7 separate regions of the Homo sapiens genome follow, and all the other regions are reported to be linked to region 4. Evidence: microRNA targets listed by miRTarBase, many of them from high-throughput screens and not tested one by one. Region 4 holds a microRNA gene; each other region holds the end of a gene's coding sequence.

Region 1 (3,099 bases), not on the chromosome of region 4:
TCTACTTGCTAGATACTCAAAGTCCATAAATATGTCCAGATGTCCACTGAAATATCTCTCATTTATTCTTACTTGGTTTCTATATGTAAGAATATTTTGATTTAAATAGTTTATATGCTCCTGAAATTTCTGAGAAATTCAAGTCATTATTTTAAATGACTTCACAATAGGAATCCCATCATGTATATTTTCTTTTCCTTTTTGTTTTTGAGATAGGGTCTCATTTTGTTACTCAGGCTGCAGTGCAATGGTGTGGACATGGCTCACTGCAGCCTCAACCTCCTGGGCTAAAGCACTTCTGCCACAGCCTTACAAGTAGCTGATACTACAGGTGTGCACGACGCCTGGCTGATTTTTATATTTTTGTAGAGACAGGGTCTCTACAAAAGACCAGGCTGGTCATGAACTCTTGGCCTCGAGGGATACTTCCACCTTTGCCTCCCCAAATGCTGAGATTACAGGCATGAGCCACTGTGTCTGGCCACATAAATTTTCAGTTCAATTCAACAAACATCTACTGGGTTTCATTAGAGGGACCATCAATCCTTTTATTGACACCATTAACTCCCAACAATCTTATAGGTAAATCTGGGTTTTCTTATCTTAGGTTTACTTATAGTAAGGTACTTGGTAAGAAGATAAAATGTTTCCTATTCTTCATTTATATTGTAAGTCATCTGCATGCTTATCTAGAATTTCAACTTACAATTTGCCTGGTACATTGTTACCCTACTCTGATTCTTAGAGGAGCCCAATAACCATATCCATTCTTCGTGTAAGAAACTGTCACTGTTGAAAAGGGACTCCAAATGTGCATAAAAGATAATCTCAAAACCAATGGTTGCAAAATGAAACATGAACAGTCAAGCTGCCTCTTTAACACAGGCATTTACAATTAGGTTGCCTTCAGTTTGGAAACCTCTGTTTAGTTTCCCTGCAACACAGATTTAATGTCCATCCCTATCTAGTGCTTTAAAACACACACATACAGGCCAGGCATGGTGGCTCATGCTGTAATCCCAGCACTCTGGAAGGCCAAGGCAGGCGGATCACCTGAGGTCAGGAGTTCAAGACCAGACAGGCCAATGTGGCAAAACCCTGTCTCTACTAAAAATACAAAAAAATGAGCTGGGTGTGGTGTACCTGTAGTCCCAGCTAGTTGGGAGGCTGAGGCAGAAGAATCACTTGAACCCAGGAGGCAGAGGTTACAGTGAGCAGAGGTCACGCCACTGCACTCCAGCCTGGGTGACAGAGTGAGACTCTCTCAAGAACAAAAACAAAAACAAAACCACACACATATATAAGGTCAAAAATCCTTTACATTTCTGTTTTCTCAAAGTAATATCTTCCCCCAACCCCTTGGACATTTCTGCTATGGTATTATTGGAAAACCTCAAAATTGTATTTTAGGGTTTCTGGAGTCCATGGAGAATCCCTAACCCATATCATAAAACATAAAATATATAATAAAACATAACCCATATCATAAAACATAAAATTCTCTCTGGATTAATGTTGTTGAACTATATGTGAAAGGTGGGAATTATAAACTGAACCCTCTAGAGTTTACCCTGAAAGGCTAAACACACAGATGACCTGGAGTGGAGGCAGGAACCAACGTACCACATTTTTTGTACAAATTGTTGGCAGTTCTTAAAGGGACAGAAGATTACTGTTTACATTTTGCAGTCTCTTGCTTTTTTAAGACAATTTCATGAATGATAAAAGTGATGTCGGGAAGACATAAACCTGAAACTCCAACCCCCATCCTCGCTCTTTTATTTTGTTTTAAATCATCATATAGTAATTTGAGTTTAAGACTAACTTCAGCCATTCAGAATAATATTGAAAGTATTTCCTAAATCATTTAATAACAGTGACCACAATAAATAAAGATTTGGTTCTAAGATTACAAATAATGAAAAATGTTAACTTTGAGATTCAAAACCCTGTAGCATCTGGAAAAGGTTGTTTATAAAGTATAATCATAACAATAACATTAAGACTTATGTGTGAAATAAAACATTTCTGAAACACTTAGGAATACATGCTTATTCCACTTTTGGGATAACTACTAGTACTTCCTGAAATCTGTTGGGTAGTAATTTCTGTAAAAAGAAAGCAGCAATTCCAGAAGCTGGGTGTCGAGATTATTATACATAATAAAAAAAATTCAGTTTTCCAGCACTGGCTTAATATAAAATGGCCTTAAAAAGTATTTTTAAATGCAAATATTGAATTCTTGATGCTTCCTTTAAGACACGTACTCTGTCAAGTTAATGAAGTATGATCTTGGATTGTCTTCTATGAGGTATCTGTAGAGTCACATCTCATTCTGTAAACAGTGTTTGGGAAACATCTTCATCTGAAAATTATGGCAAAGTCTCCTTTTACCATTAAACAGAGACTAGCACTGTCAGGCTGGGGCAACTGTTTGAGAGACTGATGCTTGATACGGACACAGCTGTCAGGGATTCCATTTTCTCATTTAGGTTTGCATTTATTGCTCTCAAGTCTGTGACTGCAGGATAAATAAGGCAGGAGTTCCCAAAATACATAAAATTAGGGACTAGAACTCTGACAATTTGCACAAGTTCTGTCCACTTCTTGCCTGTAACTCTGAAGCTGAATAGTACATCTATACATGCCAAATGTGTTCAATAATAAATGGTTTGCTTTGGACTGTACTTCCTCCCATTTAGATGAACTTCCAGGAACTGCAATGTCAAGAAAATATCATTACTATCCATTGTACAGTTACATCTTGAATAAGATACAGGGAAAAAAACAACTGAAATATACTGGGAATATATTTTTATTAGTCTGATTTCTACCCTCTCTAAGCTATTCTGTTAGATAAGTAGGTCAATTTACACATCCTTAATGGCTTCTCATTATTCTAACCTCTCCAGTCTACTCTCAGGTAGAGAAAAAATACCAGACATCAGTTACAAACCTGTCATTAAAATATCTTGTGCACATTAAAAGTAAACCTCATGCATGTATTATTTTGATTTAAAAAGCATCAATAGCATCAATCTGTGAAATGACTTGAAGAAATAAAAATGTAAGAATCTAGCTTTTCCTATGTAGAAAAGA
Region 2 (3,000 bases), not on the chromosome of region 4:
TGAGATCACCCCACTGCGCTCCAACCTGGGTGACAGAGCGAGACTCTGTCTCAAAAAAAAAAAAAAAAAAAAGATGTACAGAATCTTGCTGTATAGAAGGGAAAACTGAGGCTCAGAGAGCGGCAGGGAGGGGCCCATACATGGTGATCCACATGTCAGTGTACTGCTGTCCCTGTTCCACACAGCCCACCTCTCCTGCTGCTCTCTTTCTCCAGGACCCCGGTGCCATTTGGAGGACCCCTCGTGGGGGGCACTTTTCCCAGGCCAGGCACCCCCTTCATCCCGGAGCCCCTCAGTGGCTTGGAACTCCTCCGTCTCAGACCCAGCTTCAACAGAGTGGCCCAGGGCTGGGTCCGTAACCTCCCAGAGTCCGAGGAGCTGTAGCCCTAGCCTGAATCTTCAGTTCCCCAGTCTCGGGGGCCTGGTAACATCCGGAGCCAAGACTTGTGGACAGCACTTCACAGTTGAAGAAGGGCCTTCACACACAAAACCTGATTGCAAATGGCTTCAGAGGTCACCAAGTTCAGTCGTCCCAAAACATGGGTGTGTTTCAAAATTACCTGGGGATGTTGTTCCAAATCCAGACAACTGGACTGTCCCAGACTTGCAGCATCAGAGTCTCCTGAGTCGAGGAATCTGTATTATTAATAGCAACCAGGGCCGGGTGTCGTGGCTCACGCCTGTCATCCCAGCACTTTGGGAGGCCGAGGCAGGAGGATCACCTGAGGTCAGGAGTTTGAGACCAGTCTGGCCAAAATAGTGGAACCCCGTCGCTACTAAAAATACAAAAATGAGTCGGACATGGTGGTGCATGCCTGTAATCCCAGCTACTTGGGAGGCTGAGACAGGAGAATCACTTGAACTAGGAGGCAGAGGTTGCAGTGAGCCGAGATTGCGCCACTGCACCCCAGCCTGGACAACAGAGTGAGACTCCTTCTCAAAAGTAAATAAATAAATAGCAACCAGTACTCCAGGTGATTCCAGCATAACTTATCCATGGTTTGTGTCATTAGGAGTCCACATCCACACCTCTGCTCTTTCCTGTTCCTGTAGTGTACACTCCCCCGGTGACAGGGTGCTCACTGGCACCCCATCTTCCTGTGAATAACTCAAATAATTAGAAAATGTTCCTTTTACTGAGATGCAGTTGGTCTTCATCTATTCATGCTCTAAACAGTTCCTAAGCGCTGACTGTGCGCTAGACACTGCCAGGCCCGGGCCTCGAGGAGGAAAAGACAGTAGGGAAGACATTATAGAGCATGAAGTCACCATAATTTTCCCTAAAGCATGCTTATTGACAATTGAGGAACAAAGTGTTGTGGAGCAGAAGAAGGAGTCCCTCACCCTAGGTGTGAGATGGGATTCTGGAAGCTTCCTGAAGGATTTGAGTGGGACCTTGTGGGAGGCGTGAGAGTCCATGAAGGGGGTGTGAGGGGGAGGGTATTTCTGGAAAGTGGACCAGCATGTGCAAAAATATGGAACTGAGCACGGGTGCAGGGTGTTCTGCAGAAGGGAGAAGGCTGTGCTAGAGGAGCCAGTGAGGGCCAGCATGGGGTGGGCTTCACTAAGGAAATGGGGAAGGTTTTAGTGATGGGTCTTGCTGGGTGCTGTGTGGGGCGCATATTGGAGAAGGGTAATGCCAGAAGCCAGGAAGCCTGCAAGGGATGAGGCCATGGGAATGGAGAGAAGGGGCCACCCACTGGGCACCTAACAGGACAGGTGCAAAGTGGGGTGCTTATTAAGATTCCTTCTTTCCACTCCATTTTGAGCAGGCTGCTTAAAGTGGTGGTGATGATGATGATGATGATGGCAGCTTTATATCGAGTGCCTCAGTGCTTGGGCTGGTAGTAGTTTCTCTACATATCTTATTTCTAATTCTCAGAACAACCCTGAGAGAAAGATATTGTTGTCCCCACTTTACAGATGTGGATATTTAGGCCAAAAGGAGGAAGTGACTTGTCCAGGGGCAGACACCAAATGGGAATCTGATTCCAGTGGATGTCTCTTTTCAGTGCACTGGGTGGTCAATGCCCACTCGCTCTGAAATCATCTGACTGTGATGCCCTGCCTTGGAGTTTAGAAGTTGAGTGCAGGCTTGGGAGTCAGACTGGATGGGGTAGGTTCTAACTCTGCCACTGCTAGCCGGATGAACTTGAGCAAGTCATTTCACATCTCCGAGCCTCTGTTTCTCCAAGTGTAAGATGAGGACAAGTATAAAACCTCCTTTATGGGTTTGTTGTGAACACAGTGCAGGGCACATTTATAATAAGAGCTCAGTCAATGGTAGGTTTCATGCAACTGCTGCTCTAGGCTGGAAAAGTTGTTCTTGCACTGGATGCAGCATGAGAAGCTGGCTGCTAAGATGTCACTGGGGGTCACTAAAGCTGAAGCCTGAAGGAAAGCCTCTCATTGCTGTAGAGCTCTCCCTGCCTCTCTCTCTGGGGGCGATGGGGAAGGTCAGGAGTCCAGCCCATTCCCAGGGTGTGTGGGATAGCGATTGCATTTTCCTTTTGCTCTGGAGTTTCACTCCCCTTCTGGGTCCCAAGGGCCCAATGGCCTGACTTTTAGAATTGCTTGCAATTGGTGTTTTCTCTTGAATTTGGGGGCTGCCATTTAAAGCCAGGTTTCCATGAGCTGAAGACCAGCCATTCAAGAATCTGAAAAGTAGACAAGAGGACTCCAGTTGCCTCAGGTTGGTTCTGCTGTGCTCTGGAAAGTAACTGCAGCCACCAGGTATGAAAAGGAGCCTGGTGGGGAGACCACTGCACCCAAAACAAATCCTTTCTTCTTCTGAGAATGTGACTTTTTCTGGTGTTGTAAAAAAGAAAAAAAAAAGAATGCTCATTGTAAAAATAAAAAAATAATAATAAGCAAGGAGTAAAATGTGAAGTGTCTGCCCACATAGTCCTCCCACATACATATGTACACCTTCCTACCTCTGCCATTCCTACACACCAGAGGTAACCACTGATGACAATTTGGTCCTTCTAGAATTGTAGA
Region 3 (3,092 bases), not on the chromosome of region 4:
AGAAGGCTGGATAAGAGCAATCAGAGCTGCAAGGCAGGCGGTGGTGGAAGATTGGTGGCTCATGTTCATATTCTGCCAACGCTCATAAAGCTTTCTGAGGCTGAACTGAGAGTACCTCTAAGGAGGGAAGGCTAAAGGCTTAAGTTGGAGACTAGACAGCTTTGTGTAAATCATTGTTTCCTGACTTGCTTCTTGGTCTTGGTGTAGCAATAGGTGTTCACTAAAATAAATAACACTGAATGAAAGAATTTATAGTAGGGAAGGAATCATACCTTTTCTTCTTCTGTTAAACTTATACTCAGGAGTCTGACCCAGTCTTTTTCCATATTTTAATAAAATCCCTTCTTTACAAATACATACATATATGTATATCACATGTTATATACATATATGTATATAAAATGTTATATGTATATAACATTTTAAACATTTACATACCTTACTGAGCAATTTAGAAAATTGTTGCAGCAGGATAAAGATGGGAAATCCTTTCTAAATTTAATACTAAGATAAGCATATTTTATAAAAGTTGTTTGCTTTCTCAGAGGGACTTGAATTATCTCATCATAAAACAGCAGTTCTCAAAGGCCTCCTAAAGATTGATTTGCTATGAATGTGTTACTAATTGCAAAGTTCAACTCTAAGTGCTGGTTGTTATGTTTTAGGCGCAAAAAGCCATGAACTGACAGTCCCAGTACTGAAAGAACATTTTCATTTGTGTGGATGATTTCTCGAAAGCCATGCCAGAAGCAGTCTTCCAGGTCATCTTGTAGAACTCCAGCTTTGTTGAAAATCACGGACCTCAGCTACATCATACACTGACCCAGAGCAAAGCTTTCCCTATGGTTCCAAAGACAACTAGTATTCAACAAACCTTGTATAGTATATGTTTTGCCATATTTAATATTAATAGCAGAGGAAGACTCCTTTTTTCATCACTGTATGAATTTTTTATAATGTTTTTTTAAAATATATTTCATGTATACTTATAAACTAATTCACACAAGTGTTTGTCTTAGATGATTAAGGAAGACTATATCTAGATCATGTCTGATTTTTTATTGTGACTTCTCCAGCCCTGGTCTGAATTTCTTAAGGTTTTATAAACAAATGCTGCTATTTATTAGCTGCAAGAATGCACTTTAGAACTATTTGACAATTCAGACTTTCAAAATAAAGATGTAAATGACTGGCCAATAATAACCATTTTAGGAAGGTGTTTTGAATTCTGTATGTATATATTCACTTTCTGACATTTAGATATGCCAAAAGAATTAAAATCAAAAGCACTAAGAAATACATAGTTGTGTGATGGCTGTTCATTCAACACGTCCTCCCAGCACCTGGCACAGTGCCCTGCATTTACCTGGCACTCATTGTTTGCGGGATGAATTAAAAGAAAGCTCTAAAAAATACAAGATAATATGATGTTAAACGGACAATGCCTTTTTTTATGTGACAACCATAATTATCTACATATTAAGTATGACTTCTAGACATTTAAACAAAAAGCATAGTTTGGGGACAACATAAATTAGAAAAAATACTGTCGAAACCATGGTGAAATATCCCATTGCATGGGTGAACACACATTTTACTTGGATTTAATTTGGATTTCTTTTGAGGCTGAGCTTTTTTTTTTTTTGAGATGAGTTTCGCTCTTGTTGCCTAGGCTGGAGTGCAATGGCACGATTTTGGCTCACCGCAAACTCTGTCTCCTGGGTTCAGGCAATTCCTCTGCCTTAGCCTCCGAGTAGCTGGGATTACAGGCATGCGCCACTACGCCCAGCTAATTTTGTATTTTTAGTAGAGATGGTTTCTTAATGTTGGTCAGACTGGTTTTGAACTCCCAACCTCAGCCACCTGCCTCGGCCTCCCATAGTGCTGGGATTACAGGTGTGAGCCACTGTGCCCGGCCACTTTTTTTTTTTTTTAACTAAAATGATAGTTTAATCTTTTGTTATTAATAATAAAAGTGTGATATCAGTCCTTGCCAAAAGCCAACTCAAAAGTTAAGGGAGAAGACAAAATGCACTAGTCACTCACAGTATAGTAGTAAACAATGTCATATATGTGTGTGTGTGTGTGTTTTTGAGGGGAGGGATGGATTTTCACTCTTGCCCAGGCTTGAGTGCAATGGCGCAATCTCGGCTCACCGCAACCTCCGCCTCCTGGGTTCAAGCGATTCTCCTGCCTCAGCCTCCCCAGTAGCTGGGATTAAAAGCATGAGCCACCAGGCCCAGCTAATTTTGTATTTTTAGTAGAGACGGGGTTTCTCCATGTTGGTCAGGCTGGTCTTGAACTCCTCAGGTGATCCGCCCTCCTCAGCTTCCCAAAGTACTGGGATTACAGGCGTGAGCCACTGCACCTGGCCTATATGTGTGTTTTTAGAACGCTTCAGGACACTAAAGGTTAAATTGCTATTGCAGTAGATACAGAATTTATTTCTTGATTTTCTTCTTAAAGTTTTTTTTTTAGAAACAGGGTCTTGCTCTGTTGCCCAGGCTGAAATGCAGTGGTGCAATCATGGCTCACTATAACCTCAAACTCCTGGATTCATGTGATCCTCCTGCCTCAGCCTCCCAAGAAGCTGGGACTACAGGTGCTCACCACCATGCCCAGCTAATTAAATTTTTAAAAATATTTTTGTAGAGCTGGTGTCTTGCTATGTTGCCTAGGCTGGCTTTTTTCTTTCTTTTTTGAGATGGGGTCTCATTCTGTCACCCAAAATGGAGTGCAATGACATGATCACAGCTCACTGTAGTCTCAACCTCCCAGGCTCAAGCAATCCTCTCACCTCAGCCTCTTGAGTAGCTGCAACTACAGGCAAATGCCAGCACACCTGGCTAATTTTTTATTTTTTGTAGAGATGGGGCCTTGCTCTGTGGCCTTGTCTGGTCTCAAACTCCTGGCCTCAAGCAATCCTCCCGACTTGGCCTCCCAAAGTGCTAGAATTACAGGCATGAGCCACAGCACCCAGCCTGCTTTTTAAATTATTATTTAAAATAATAGAGACAGCCCGGGCATGGTGGCTCACAACTGTAATCCCAGTACTTTGAGAGGCTGAAACAGGATGGCTTGAGGTCAGGAGT
Region 4 (3,099 bases):
TTGCTTCAGAACATATGGCTTAATGAGTAATCAATCCTTAGCCAGTTTGTTAGCCTTGTCTTTTTCATGAATATCATCATATAATCCTACCGAGTTTTTTTAAGTCTACTTAATCTTCTGGGAACCAAAGAGGAAAATATGTCAAGAGCTGTCTGTACTCTTAAAAACAGCTCTTAATATGCACCAGAATGAATAGCTACTTTAGTAGTTACTTTTCTCTTATTTGTGTTTATGACGAATATAACTTTAGTGCTATAAATGCAAATATGTTTAATAATGAGACTTAAGTTCATTAAACTCTTAAAAGTACATCCTTTTTCTTATTTTCACTTTCATATTTTGCTTATATTGAGTTTTTTTGGTTGGTTGTTTATGATAAAGTCTTGCTCTGTCACCCAGGCTGGGGTGCAGTGGCACAATCTCAGCTCACTGCAACTTCCGTCCCCGGGATTCAAGCAATTCTCGTGCCTCAGACTCCCAAGTAGCTGGGATTACAGGCACATGCTACCACGCCCAGCTAATCTTTGTATTTTTAGTAGAGAGTGGTTTTCACCATGTTGGCCAGGCTGGTCTTGAACTTCCAACCTCAAGTGATCCACCTGCCTCGGCCTCCCAAAGTGCTGGGATTACAGGTGTGAGCCACCGCACCCGGCCAGTATTAAGTACTGATCACTTTAAAATTTTAGATAATCAAAAGTATTTTAATCAAAATTAATGTAATCTGAATAGCATTTATTATTATAGTTGTAAAAAATTAAATTGTTTTTATTCATAGGCTCGAAAAGAGATTCTAAAGATTCACACCAGGGATTGGAATCCCAAACCACTGGACACATTTTTAGAAGAGCTAGCAGAAAACTGTGTTGGTAAACATTGTTTTAAGCAGTTAAAATAAATACTACATTTATTTCAAATATGAAACAAGTTATATTAGGTTGGTGCAAAAGTAATTGTGGTTTTTGCCTGTAAAAGTAATGGCAAAAACCACAGTTTCTTTTGCACCAGACTAATAAAGAAATACAAGGTTATATTTGTTTCTTATCTCTTATTTGTGGCATTTTCTTCTCATGAAGTCTTGGTATTAAATAGAGATATTTGACAAATTGGCCATCAGGGGCAGAGTAGATAATAATATAATTGTACAAAATACAATATATTATTATATCATAATAAGATAATAGCTATTCTTTACTGACCATTTTGTAGTCATCCTTTTAAGCATTTTACATATATTATTTCATGTAATTTTCACATCATTCCTGTGATGTAGGTAGCAGTATCTCTACAGATGAAGAAATGGCTGGAGAGCATTATGTGAATCTTCTAAGGTCATACAGCTAGTAAATTACAAACTGGAATGTGAATCTAGTCTGTGTGATTTTAAAACTCTTGCTTTTGACCTCTGTGCTATACTTAGTGCTTGTGTATTGCACTCTTAAAAGTTGATTGATTGTTGATGGCCATTACTACCCTATAAGTTTACTGGGTAAAAGAGATTTTGGTCTTATTACTCTTAAATATTTGCTAACTATATTCCGAGGCTGATTTTTAATTTTTTTTTTAACCATGGTCATGCTAATAGAGTTTTGTGTTTCTTTGTTTGGTCGGCTGGTTCTTTTCTTCCCCTGGTTGCTTTGGATAGGATACTGTGGAGCAGATATTAAATCAATATGTGCTGAAGCTGCTTTATGTGCTTTACGACGACGCTACCCACAGATCTATACCACTAGTGAGAAACTGCAGTTGGATCTCTCTTCAATTAATATCTCAGCTAAGGATTTCGAGGTAGCTATGCAAAAGATGATACCAGCCTCCCAAAGAGCTGTGACATCACCTGGGCAGGCACTGTCCACCGTTGTGAAACCACTCCTGCAAAACACTGTTGACAAGATTTTAGAAGCCCTGCAGAGAGTATTTCCACATGCAGAATTCAGAACAAATAAAACATTAGACTCAGGTATAAAACTTGATTGACCATTTAAAGTTAGTTTTTATAATCAGTAAAGTGAAATGTTTCATACATACCAGAAATATTTATTTGTAAAAGAATCTCTTGAAAAGAATTTGGTAATGCTTTACCTGGGATATTTGAAGGAAATTTACTCCATGGATTGCCCTTAATTTAACTTATTGTAAGTTTGGGGTGCATTTTTACATTTACTTATTAATTCATATCTACACAAATATTTTTGATTCTTTGAAAAAATTTAATTGAAGTATGCTGACTTGGTAACTGAAGCAATAAAGATTTGCTTTGCAATCCAAAAGTTACTAATGTACAATTTTTTGGTTTTATAGATATTTCTTGTCCTCTGCTAGAAAGTGACTTGGCTTACAGTGATGATGATGTTCCATCAGTTTATGAAAATGGACTTTCTCAGAAATCTTCTCATAAGGCAAAAGACAATTTTAATTTTCTTCATTTGAATAGGTATATTTTTCTTGCAAATCAATGTTTTTTGCATGTGTAAATTTTCTAAAAATAAATGAGATGTGGTTGAAAAAATAAAAAGTGCTAACCAATCTGCTTTTTATTTAAATTAAACTACCAGAAATTTTTTGTTGTTACAGTTGTCACAACAGTAGAAATTACAGTCTATAAAAATATTCCTAAAAACCTTTGGGGGTCAGTTTCCAGAAACTATGTGAACCATGTTATGATTGGTTGGCCTTATTGGCAAGACTTTTTACTTATGAAAGTTTATAGTTGACAATTTAGGGGGAAAATTTAAACTGTTTTTTCTAAAACATAGCTTATTAATCATTTCTCTTTCAGAAATGCTTGTTACCAACCTATGTCTTTTCGACCAAGAATATTGATAGTAGGAGAACCAGGATTTGGGCAAGGTTCTCACTTGGCACCAGCTGTCATTCATGCTTTGGAAAAGTTTACTGTATATACATTAGACATTCCTGTTCTTTTTGGAGTTAGTACTACATCCCCTGAAGAAACATGTGCCCAGGTAATTTGTTGGTGCCCAAGTATAAGACAAAACAGGCTTTCAGAGGCAAAAGCTAAAATTGCCCCATTTTTTTGTATTGTGTTTTTTTGTCTTTCTGATTTGTAACTTTAGGTTTACAAAACAGAGTTATGCATGA
Region 5 (3,099 bases), not on the chromosome of region 4:
TGCTCATATAGACCCTTCCTTCAATCCCCCAGATACTTGGCATTTAAATGTTATTTCTAAATCAGATACCAGGAAGCAACTATGTGAGAAAGAAAATGAAAATTCTAGGTCTAATACATGTTAAACAAGTTTCAGGTAATAGTAGCTGAGAAAAATATTGATGCACATAATGAAACAAAAAGAATTGCCAGATATAATGTGGTGCACAGGGTACTCGATAAAAACATGCACTTTGTCTCGCTGAAATGTCCTTAAATATTGTCTGAGCACCAAATTCTGCAAAAGCAAGGATCTAGAATTCCGAATTTTAGAAGTTATAAAGAGAACTTCACTGCAATTAAAAGAGAAGGCAAAAATTCCAACTTCCTGAAGGACCCCATTATTCATATAGAATCATGACAAAATTTACCATGGAATTAGAATGATACCTATGTTCTTCCACTAGATTCACTTATTAAGAGATCTGTCTTTATATGGAAGTAATGTTTCACGGAATGAAACTAACATTCATAGTAATCTCTGATATCACATTGAAGGGAACAGCATACGAGCAAACAAATTTTAGAATCTGTTTTGTGAATAGTCTGACAATGTAAATAAACATCTCCCAAAGTAGAGAAAAAAACAAAATTTTAATACAAGAAGAAATAAAAATTATTCACTTACAAACCACCTACACATTTTGTTTTCCCAACAGACACACTTTAAAAGCACAAATAGAATATAAGGCAAACAGTACAAAGCTGTGAAAAGGGTAGCAGAGAACTGAGGCATTCATTTATAAACAACATCACAGAATATAAACGAAGATCATATTTTGTGGATGTTTGCATTCACACTGAGCTTTACTCTTTTTTTCCTATTAAGGTCTTTCATTTACAGGTAATGATCAACAAGACAAAAATATGTAAATGACTAATTATAAATATGAAAAAATTCAGTGACATTTTCTATAACTATTTCCCCATGTCACTGACTGCTAAGTTTTCACTTCCTTACTAGGCTGAGTTTCAAATGAGGTATCCGTACTCATCTAAGCTTTTCACTACTGCAAAACAAGCTTGACTATTGGGAACATTAACATTTATCTTCCCAAGAATCACTCATCATTCTTTGGAGAAGAATCTACTTGTTAAATTAACAGCATTTATCTCTGGTTTCCACTTAATATCATTTCACTCTAGTAGTTCCTGAATTTTGGACTGCATATTTGTTTCATTTCCAAAAAAAAGAAATATGGAGTGTCAAACACTAAGAATAGGTATTTAATTATTAAATACTAAAAGAGTACATGGATAAAATAAAACAATCACTAGTAATTCCTTAGTACTTAAGATGCAAGTGTCCATACAGTCTTGATTAGTACGGCATTAGAAACAACAGAGGGCTGTCCTTGATGACTAAATCCCTAAACAACGTCAGTGTCCAGACCATGAATTACATATTTTTTGACCATGCATTACATTATTTTTTAATAAATGTTCAATAAAATTCTTTATAGTGGAAAATTACTCAATGAATAACCACTCAAATCATAGTTGCCTAATATAAATTCTAAACTTAGCTAAAATGAAGGCCTCAAAAATAATTTATCTACAATAAACATACCAAACTGTTACTTTAAAAAAAAGAGTTTTTAGACATTGCTTTGGAAAGAATTCCTGTATTAGTTTATAGAAGATGAGAGGTCACTTGACGAAATGGGTGACAGAACTAAGACAATGGAGAAGGTAACTGGCTGATCTCTTTTTTTTACACCGGATGTGACTTGTCACTGGACATGCTAATGTCAGTCGTTACTCCTTATGAAGCAGACACGGACAGGTCTACAGCATTACATAATAGATGTGTCAATAAACTGTGTGTGTCTGTGGGTGCATACGTACGTATTCTAGAGTAGAAGTTACCATAAAGTTCACACACCAGAAACATAAAAATATGATACATACCACTTTTCAAAAAGCAGAAGATTTTTATCAAAGGAAATGTTAGAAGAAATCTCAATATATAAAATAGAAATAAAATACTAGGCTATTCTGGCTAAAGCAGAGTAGGATTAACAGAGACCCTTCCCAACCTACAATGACTGATGAAATACCTGTTAGTATTCCAAGGAATGGGCTGAAACCTCTACTCAGTAAATCCTGTTTATTTTGCGAAAGTCAATCACAAGACTTTTTTTCCCCATTATCTAGGCATATATGAAAATTTTATGATAATGCAACTGAGTATAAAGTTAAAAAGTAACATTTCTTCTCCTTTAAAAATAACTAACAAAATAAAACCACTATGCTATATAAAACCACATTATTTTTAACCTCATAATCTTGATACATGGAAAAAGTTATTAGTTCTCCTTAAAGTGCCTAAATTTTAAAGACTTAATTTTGTCCATATAAATCTTGTCCAAAATATATGAGGGAAACGGATGGCAGCAGGAGAGGCATTATTTTTCTATATCACACATGTATCTTCTACCTGACTGACCAATTTAAATATTCTGCCCAAGAATCTTAACTTTTTGTCACAGAATATTCAGATAGAGAAACATGCAAATAGAATTGTTCTGTTCTAATCACAAAGATCAGGTAAATTTTGATGGAGTGCTCTGTGTTTGTTTCAGACAAACTGTTCATCTCTTTGCTCCAAACACTTCCCCATGTATGGAGGGACTACTTTAATCCATGCAGTTGATATTAGCAAAATACGAATAACATGTTCTTTTCTGTAAAGATCATGATTAAATGTCTAAATTCAATAAATAGACTCTTTAATAATTTGAAGTCCTAACAAATATTTTATAGTCATCAAGTCTCAATCTTTCTTCTTTTCTAATACATCCTTGGGCTCCTGCACTGTAGGCACTACAGATCCTCCACTGCTGGGCTCCTGCTGTTCTTTGCTCTCTTCTATCTGTTCTTGGTTTTCATTTTCACTTTTAGACACTTCATATCGTTCTTCTATATAACCTCCATCTGTGTCGGCTGTGTAGATTCCATAGCACATGATACTGATGACACCCAGTGGCAGGCCAAAGAGAAAGCAGCCCATCAGTGGTGAGCTCTTGAATATAGACTGTGGAAAGAGAATTAAAACTCA
Region 6 (3,099 bases), not on the chromosome of region 4:
TGGTAAATTTCTGCTTTTTCCATGGCCTTGACCATCTTTGCTACTGCGCAGTGAACCAGGACTTAATTTCTCACACTGTTTCTGCAGGTTCCGGTACCAAAGAAGATGCAGTTCAAAATACTGCCAGTTTTCCAAGAAATTTTGTAAAGTTGAACATGGCCATCTACTCTTGCCTTAAAACTTTTCTCACCACACCCACCTTCCCACATGCATGATATCCAAGGTCGACAGACCTGGATTAGAATCCACTCTCAAGCTTCTCATGCAGTGCGTATTGTATTTTCTGCATAAGAAAGGGCTGCCTCTAGAACACAGTAAGTGTATTTGCCCAGTAGTGACATTGCCTACATATAGCCAAGTGTTATAGTATACCAACTTAGTATATTTTTCAAGGAGAGCTAAACCACCTTTTGTAATGTTTGGTTTCTCACTGTTATCTTCCTTTCCTATAATTAATTTATTTTAATCTACAAATTGACATAGGGCTAAAAGCTTCAATATTTTACAAAATATTAATTAATGTAATTGTTCCCAATTATTAGAAACTTTTTTCCATTTTTCAAAATGTTTGCCAACTTCACACAAGTGTGTAAAAATAGGGCTCTGGATTTTCAAAAGCACATACATGAATAATTTATTAGCTATTCCAGGCAAGCTAAGTACTAGAATAAACTAGATAAAAACTTGGCTTTAAGCATGTACTTTGATATTTATAAAACAAAGGTGTTTTTTTTTCATTTCTGCATCTGAATCAATACAAATTTACACATGAAGAATTTTGGCTGTAAATTAAAATTTTAGAGATTTTTACTACTGCCCTCACCTCTGCCTCCTCTTAACTGTTCTCTTCCTTACTCTCCCTCTCTTAACACTTTCTCTCAAATTAATTATCTTTTAGTTAGTGATGACATTATTTTTCCCAGCTGGTACAGGTAATATTTCTCACAACCAAGCCTTAATCATTTTTAAAAAATACACTCAACTCTAATTCTGGCCTAAATATTATTTTTCTGAAAAAGCTTCTGATTTAAGATTGATTCCAATAGACACTAAGTTGGAAAAACATCAGCCCAGAGTTTTGATTATCATCCTGTTTTCCCCACAGGGGATAACTTGTAGAAGTGGGAGGGGGCACAAAAAAGAGGAGGAAATTTGATCCCTGTACAATGAAAGAGGGCCTTGCTGAATATTCACTGGAATTTCCAGGCTTTTTCCCATCCGAATTTTTGAAATGCGCCCACCTAGTTCAGAGTAAAAGCAAAAACTATAGCCTATCCTTCTTAAAAATACTGTGTTTTGCACACAAACATTCATTGCTTTAAGAACATTAAAAAATGACAGCCTGAAGTGCTTAAAATGTGTATGGACATGGTACAATACATGTATATATACATACAGATATGCATATGCACAAGCAATGTATATATACACATACAAGCATGTAGTTCCATGAATTTGATTGAACTTGATATCCAACAGTGTACAACTACTGTACATCCAGTATGAAATGTCCTGTTTCATGGATGTAAAAGGAGTCAAAAACCAAACTTCTCAGGTCTTTTAAGCCTGAACACAATCCACACTACTCAACCTTGAATCCCAACCCCTGACTCATTGATGGTGAATGATACCAACCACAGACAGACTGTTTAAAGGCTCACACAAATGTCTTTGGTGTATGTGTCTATTTTTTAAGGTACAAAATAATAATAATAATTATAATTATAATAATAAAAATAGCTATTTTGTGTGCTGTAGCAGTTCTTTTATAGCTCACATTAAGTGCAGCTCTTAAACCCCACCCCCACCCCCAACCAAAGAAAATACTTGTTAAATAAGGATTAGACAGGTCAAACACCATTGTAGTGCAAATAGTAAACGATTAAAAAAAAAACAACAACAACATTTACAAAATATAGAAATGTTTGGATCCAACAGATGGACAAACATATTCCTTTCAAGTATCTCTCCTTGAAGAAAATAAAAATTAATCAGATTACTTCCAATACAAAAAAGTCTCTCTTTTTGTTCTCTCTCAGGTAAACAGTTTCAAACCTATTAGGTTGCATAGTTCTAAGATCATAAGCACCTTAACGAAATGTAACTTGGTATTCTTTTTTCCTTGATCTTTCATTCTTTCCATACTTGTTCTCAATTTTTTAATGTTGTTTGTTTTGTTTTGTTGCAAAAGTGGTACAGAAAAAGGAAGTGTGACCACCTGCACACGATTGTTCTTTTACCAGTATGTGTATATATGTAATGTGTGGAAATGCCTGTGTGTGTGTGTGTGTGTGTGTGTGTGTGTGTGTATGCTGATATACACAGAGATAAGTGTCACACAGACATACCTTATGACCTGGGTAATTGGGTAGGAAAGTGCCTGTGATGGGCCCTTTCAAACTCATGGCTTTCTAGATGCTATTTGGGTTGTTCTAGTCCACACTACTGCAGACTAGATTGGTTGATTCAAGGCTCACAAGGGAACCTCAAGGGGGGAAAGGACAATACCCCGTTTAAACAACTGATGTCATCAGTGTGATTTCAGAAGAAATAAAGGGTACACCATTCTCCCTTTCCCTCCCAATTCCTGTCTCTTTCACTGCTTCATCTCTGAGCCCTGGCTAAGGATTTTTTCCACATCTTCCTTCATCTGTTTCATCAGGTTTTGTTTTTAATTTACTTTTGTTTTTTTTTGTTTTTTTTTTTGTTTTGTTTTTAATTTCTATTTTTCTGGTTAACTCAGAAACCTTAAAAATTTCTTCATTTTGCCACTGTCTTCTCTGGACAACTCTTGCTCCCTTTCCCCCTGGGCTGGGCAACTCTATGAGCACCCACACTCCTCCACGATCATGTTCTGAATGTCCTTTTTGATGATGTTTTGACCATCATCATAGTACAACATGGACATGGGTCTCAGCTTGGTGGGCACACAGCACGATTTGAGGTTGGCAAAGGGGCTATGGCCCCGCATGCGGTAGTGGTTGATGACTGTTGAGTGGAAGGACAGTGAGGACCCGGACGTGCCTGCTATATGGCTCGGGCACTCACCCTCGCAGTAGTTGGCATGATAGCCAGAGGGAGCAATGATCCAGTCATTCC
Region 7 (3,090 bases), not on the chromosome of region 4:
AGAGGGAACAAGTCAGGGGAAAGATCTTAGGTTCTCTTTTAGCTGGTCCAACTTTTCTTTTTTTGAAATCTTCCATCAGTCTGGATTCTTATCTTGTCTAACATCTAAATTCTTAACAACGGGAACACAGGTTATAAGGGCAAACGTTTTGTAAGCTATAAAGTTATTCATACGTTTGCAAATAGTTATCGAGAAGGACAAGTATACAGTATTTTAATTTGAGAAATGCATTGTTACAGTCTCTTTAGAATAAAAAAACTCTCATAATAAATAAAGCAAATGTATTGTGATATCAAAAATGAGGCTTAGTCTGAAATATACTATGAGAGCCATTCTTCAAGATTGGTGTACATAAAATGTCCCATTAAGTGAACATTAAAATGAAAAAATATAGCTAGAATTAAGAATTCAACATTGACTAACTCGACTCAATGGAACAATTTAAAGATAATCATGGATTATGACAAAGTTAAAGGAAATATGAGGCAAGGAACTCTGAATCACCACACCACAAAAGAAAAAAAACCAAACCTTTAACTTGGGGCTTTGGTCGTTTTTCTGTTTTACGTGAAAAACATTTTAATGATATTAAGCTACTAGTGTTAAAATGGTTTCAACTGGTAGCGCACATTACAATCGATACATACTGTTCACTGATTCATACTACATTATATTATTGATTTACCATAATTTTAAAAGTTAGCAGCCAAAAATAACTTAGTCAAAAGTAAAGCCCTAATTAAATTTCCTTAGTTTAAAAAAATACAAATGTGTGAACTATCTTTTAAAGATGAGTGTCCTAATTTAAGGAAAAATAAGACCTTTCTCAATCACAACATGCACTTTCCCTCTGCCTGAAGACAGCATGGATATAATTTTTTTTTCTTCCTCAGAAAACAGGTATTAAACCTGTCAAATTCTGTCTGACATTTCAAAAAGTTATTGACTTAAAATTCAAAGTTATGAAGCTCTGAGCAATAAGGCTAATATGGAAATGCCAACGACCTGCGATTACAAAGGGGCTTTTGGGTGTGTTACCACAGCGCCCAGGCTCCAGAGGGAAGTGGAACTCGTGGCTTCCATACATTGGTACAGAATGGTACAGAATGTACACATGGTACGGAATTGGCACAAAATGTACACGTGGCTTCTGTACATTGCACTTCTGTACATTCTCTTCCCGGAGATTCAGGGCTATATTTCTTTCTGGAGCAGGAAAATTTAACAATTTTGTTTACTCTTGTCATCCCACCAGCTTGAAAATTTAAATAATTTTTCGACTCTGTTTTGTTCTTTTCAATATGTATGTTCCAAGAAAATTCCATTCTTTTCTTTTCAGCCTTCCTATAATGCTTCAAGCAATGTACAGTCACTTCCTTTTTACTTTTTAAAAATCATTATGTATGTGGCTCTATACAAAAAGAACTGAGTAGCTTATACTACCTGAAAGTCCATTACCTTGCTTCAAAAAGGAAGTAAAATTTCAGCTGGTTTTAAAAAGGTACGAAAGTATTAGAAAAGTTCTCTGATTATAGAACAACCTTGAAAACAGTAACTTAAGGTAGCAAATAAAACAAATACTCTAGGAAAAGATGCTAATAGGTTGATCATATAACTAGTTTTAAACATTTCTATAAGTTTATGCTAGTTAGTTTCCAAAGTTGGGCATAAGGAAAAATGAGATTCAAAGAATTTATTCAGCAGGCCACATAATCAGATATCTACTAATAGATCAAAACTACCTAGAAGATGTTTATTTTGCAATATGAAGATTTTTGTTTTTGTTATTAAATACACCAATTTTTTTTCCTTGGAGTAAACTATAAGTAGAAAATTTACTTGGTTTGGAAGTGGTTTTTCTTTCGCTAACTAAACCACATTGCTTCTCTGCATAATGTAACACTCAAAATACTTGCTTTAAAATAAGAAAACTTTAGCATATGAACTTCAGGATTATTAATAGTTTCTCATTAAAAATGCAAAGACAAATATGATTCATATGCTAGTTTATTTATCTTATTATTGAGAGATAATTTCATGATGACAGTTATCAATAATCAATTACAATATCAAGAAATTCAAAGAACAAAATCTTGCAGAGACTATGCTTTTGTATTTGGATTTAAAAAGTATGTGATCTCATTTTCACATACCAAGCTGAGAGGCCATTTAGACTATCTCTTTGCTAATTTTTGCTTACTGCTGTAGGGAAGAAGATTTCCAATGAACTTTAAATATCTCATTCATGTCTACCATTGTCGAAAAAGAGAAGGAAAACGAGGAGGCCAAAAGAAGCAGCAGGACAGAGAAAACGCCACATGGATTCAAGAGTTGAGACAACTGACAGTAAAATATATGCTCTTTGGTTAGCAAAGCAAAAAGGGGGAAAGTATTGCATACATGATAGATACACACTAGCATTCTAAAGCAGGAGACAAGAATGTCAAGAGTGTATTCTACCCCCACTGCCAGATGGAAGGGCTATTATTATAAATGAAAGGCAGCAGTAGTGGATGCCAGGCACTTTTGTTGTGTGCCAGATTCTAAAGTCCAGATGTAAGCAGGTTACCCCTGAGACAGGACAGGCTTCAGTTCCCGCAGCAGAACAGAGCCAATCACAGTTTTCTCAGTGTTTATGATAAGCTGGGCTGTAGAGCCTTCCTTCAGTTCCACTGTGACTAGCATCAATGACCCACTGTGCACAGTTTTAGCTGCAAACCTGGAAGAGAAAAAAGAGAGACCTTTTATCATAAGATGGGGAGGGTAAAGGAGATAGCATACATTCAAATAGGATTAAAATAACTCTTTTTTGTCAAATGAAATAATTTGCTGCAGGCTCCCTATTGCCAAAAACCCAAAGCCAAGCATTCTTCTGAAAAATCAATAAACTGTCCAGCCCATGCTAACCACAAGCAGGTAATTTTAGTGCACATTTAAAACAGAACAGAAAAAGGAAGTCTATTTTACTTATTAGTTTAAACAATAGATGCATGTGAATAATTCTCCATTACAATATATTTGAGAACCATTCATCCACTTGGTATTTAACATTTCACCATGCATAGGGACATTTTAAATAAGCCATTGTAT

The links. The annotated mature microRNA hsa-miR-548t-3p reads AAAAACCACAAUUACUUUUGCACCA and lies in region 4 at 937-961, opposite strand. An mRNA with a match to its seed (bases 2 to 7 or 8) in the 3' UTR can be bound and repressed. Matches are read on the target gene's strand: a 7mer-m8 pairs with bases 2 to 8, a 7mer-A1 pairs with bases 2 to 7 and ends in A, and an 8mer does both.
Region 1: miRTarBase lists SLC30A4 as a target of hsa-miR-548t-3p. Seed matches in the 3' UTR shown: 7mer-m8 at 1,285-1,291 and 7mer-m8 at 831-837.
Region 2: the mRNA of MYOZ3 is a reported target of hsa-miR-548t-3p. Seed matches in the 3' UTR shown: 7mer-A1 at 1,581-1,587.
Region 3: miRTarBase lists KIF23 as a target of hsa-miR-548t-3p. Seed matches in the 3' UTR shown: 7mer-A1 at 1,097-1,103.
Region 5: miRTarBase lists TMX3 as a target of hsa-miR-548t-3p. Seed matches in the 3' UTR shown: 8mer at 2,298-2,305 and 8mer at 2,280-2,287.
Region 6: miRTarBase lists INHBA as a target of hsa-miR-548t-3p. Seed matches in the 3' UTR shown: 7mer-m8 at 1,539-1,545.
Region 7: the mRNA of AP3B1 is a reported target of hsa-miR-548t-3p. The part of its 3' UTR that is shown has no 7-base or 8-base seed match.

The regions. Positions count from the first base shown.
Region 1 is chr15:45,482,601-45,485,699 of GRCh38, forward strand. SLC30A4 (solute carrier family 30 member 4) reads right to left here. Exons shown (of 8, transcript NM_013309.6): 8 at 1-2,717. The coding sequence ends at 2,563. All of the region lies in intron 3 of SLC30A4-AS1 (SLC30A4 antisense RNA 1), which reads left to right. Among named protein-coding and RNA genes, the nearest start is that of SLC30A4-AS1, 35 kb to the left of the region's middle.
Region 2 is chr5:150,676,492-150,679,491 of GRCh38, forward strand. It overlaps MYOZ3 (myozenin 3), which reads left to right. Exons shown (of 7, transcript NM_001122853.3): 7 at 216-2,877. The coding sequence ends at 384. Among named protein-coding and RNA genes, the nearest start is that of MYOZ3-AS1, 5.5 kb to the left of the region's middle.
Region 3 is chr15:69,447,127-69,450,218 of GRCh38, forward strand. It overlaps KIF23 (kinesin family member 23), which reads left to right. Exons shown (of 24, transcript NM_001367805.3): 24 at 666-1,299. The coding sequence ends at 681. Among named protein-coding and RNA genes, the nearest start is that of RPLP1, 4.1 kb to the right of the region's middle.
Region 4 is chr8:123,345,950-123,349,048 of GRCh38, reverse strand. MIR548AA1 (microRNA 548aa-1) reads right to left here and starts at 1,015; the gene lies at 919-1,015. It overlaps ATAD2 (ATPase family AAA domain containing 2), which reads left to right. Exons shown (of 28, transcript NM_014109.4): 15 at 776-866; 16 at 1,643-1,957; 17 at 2,299-2,431; 18 at 2,777-2,963. It overlaps MIR548D1 (microRNA 548d-1), which reads left to right and starts at 919; the gene lies at 919-1,015.
Region 5 is chr18:68,674,119-68,677,217 of GRCh38, forward strand. It overlaps TMX3 (thioredoxin related transmembrane protein 3), which reads right to left. Exons shown (of 16, transcript NM_019022.5): 16 at 1-3,075. The coding sequence ends at 2,815. Among named protein-coding and RNA genes, the nearest start is that of TMX3, 39 kb to the right of the region's middle.
Region 6 is chr7:41,686,829-41,689,927 of GRCh38, forward strand. INHBA (inhibin subunit beta A) reads right to left here. Exons shown (of 3, transcript NM_002192.4): 3 at 1-3,099. The coding sequence ends at 2,822. Among named protein-coding and RNA genes, the nearest start is that of INHBA-AS1, 5.5 kb to the right of the region's middle.
Region 7 is chr5:78,000,337-78,003,426 of GRCh38, forward strand. It overlaps AP3B1 (adaptor related protein complex 3 subunit beta 1), which reads right to left. Exons shown (of 27, transcript NM_003664.5): 27 at 1,990-2,719. The coding sequence ends at 2,566. Among named protein-coding and RNA genes, the nearest start is that of TBCA, 230 kb to the left of the region's middle.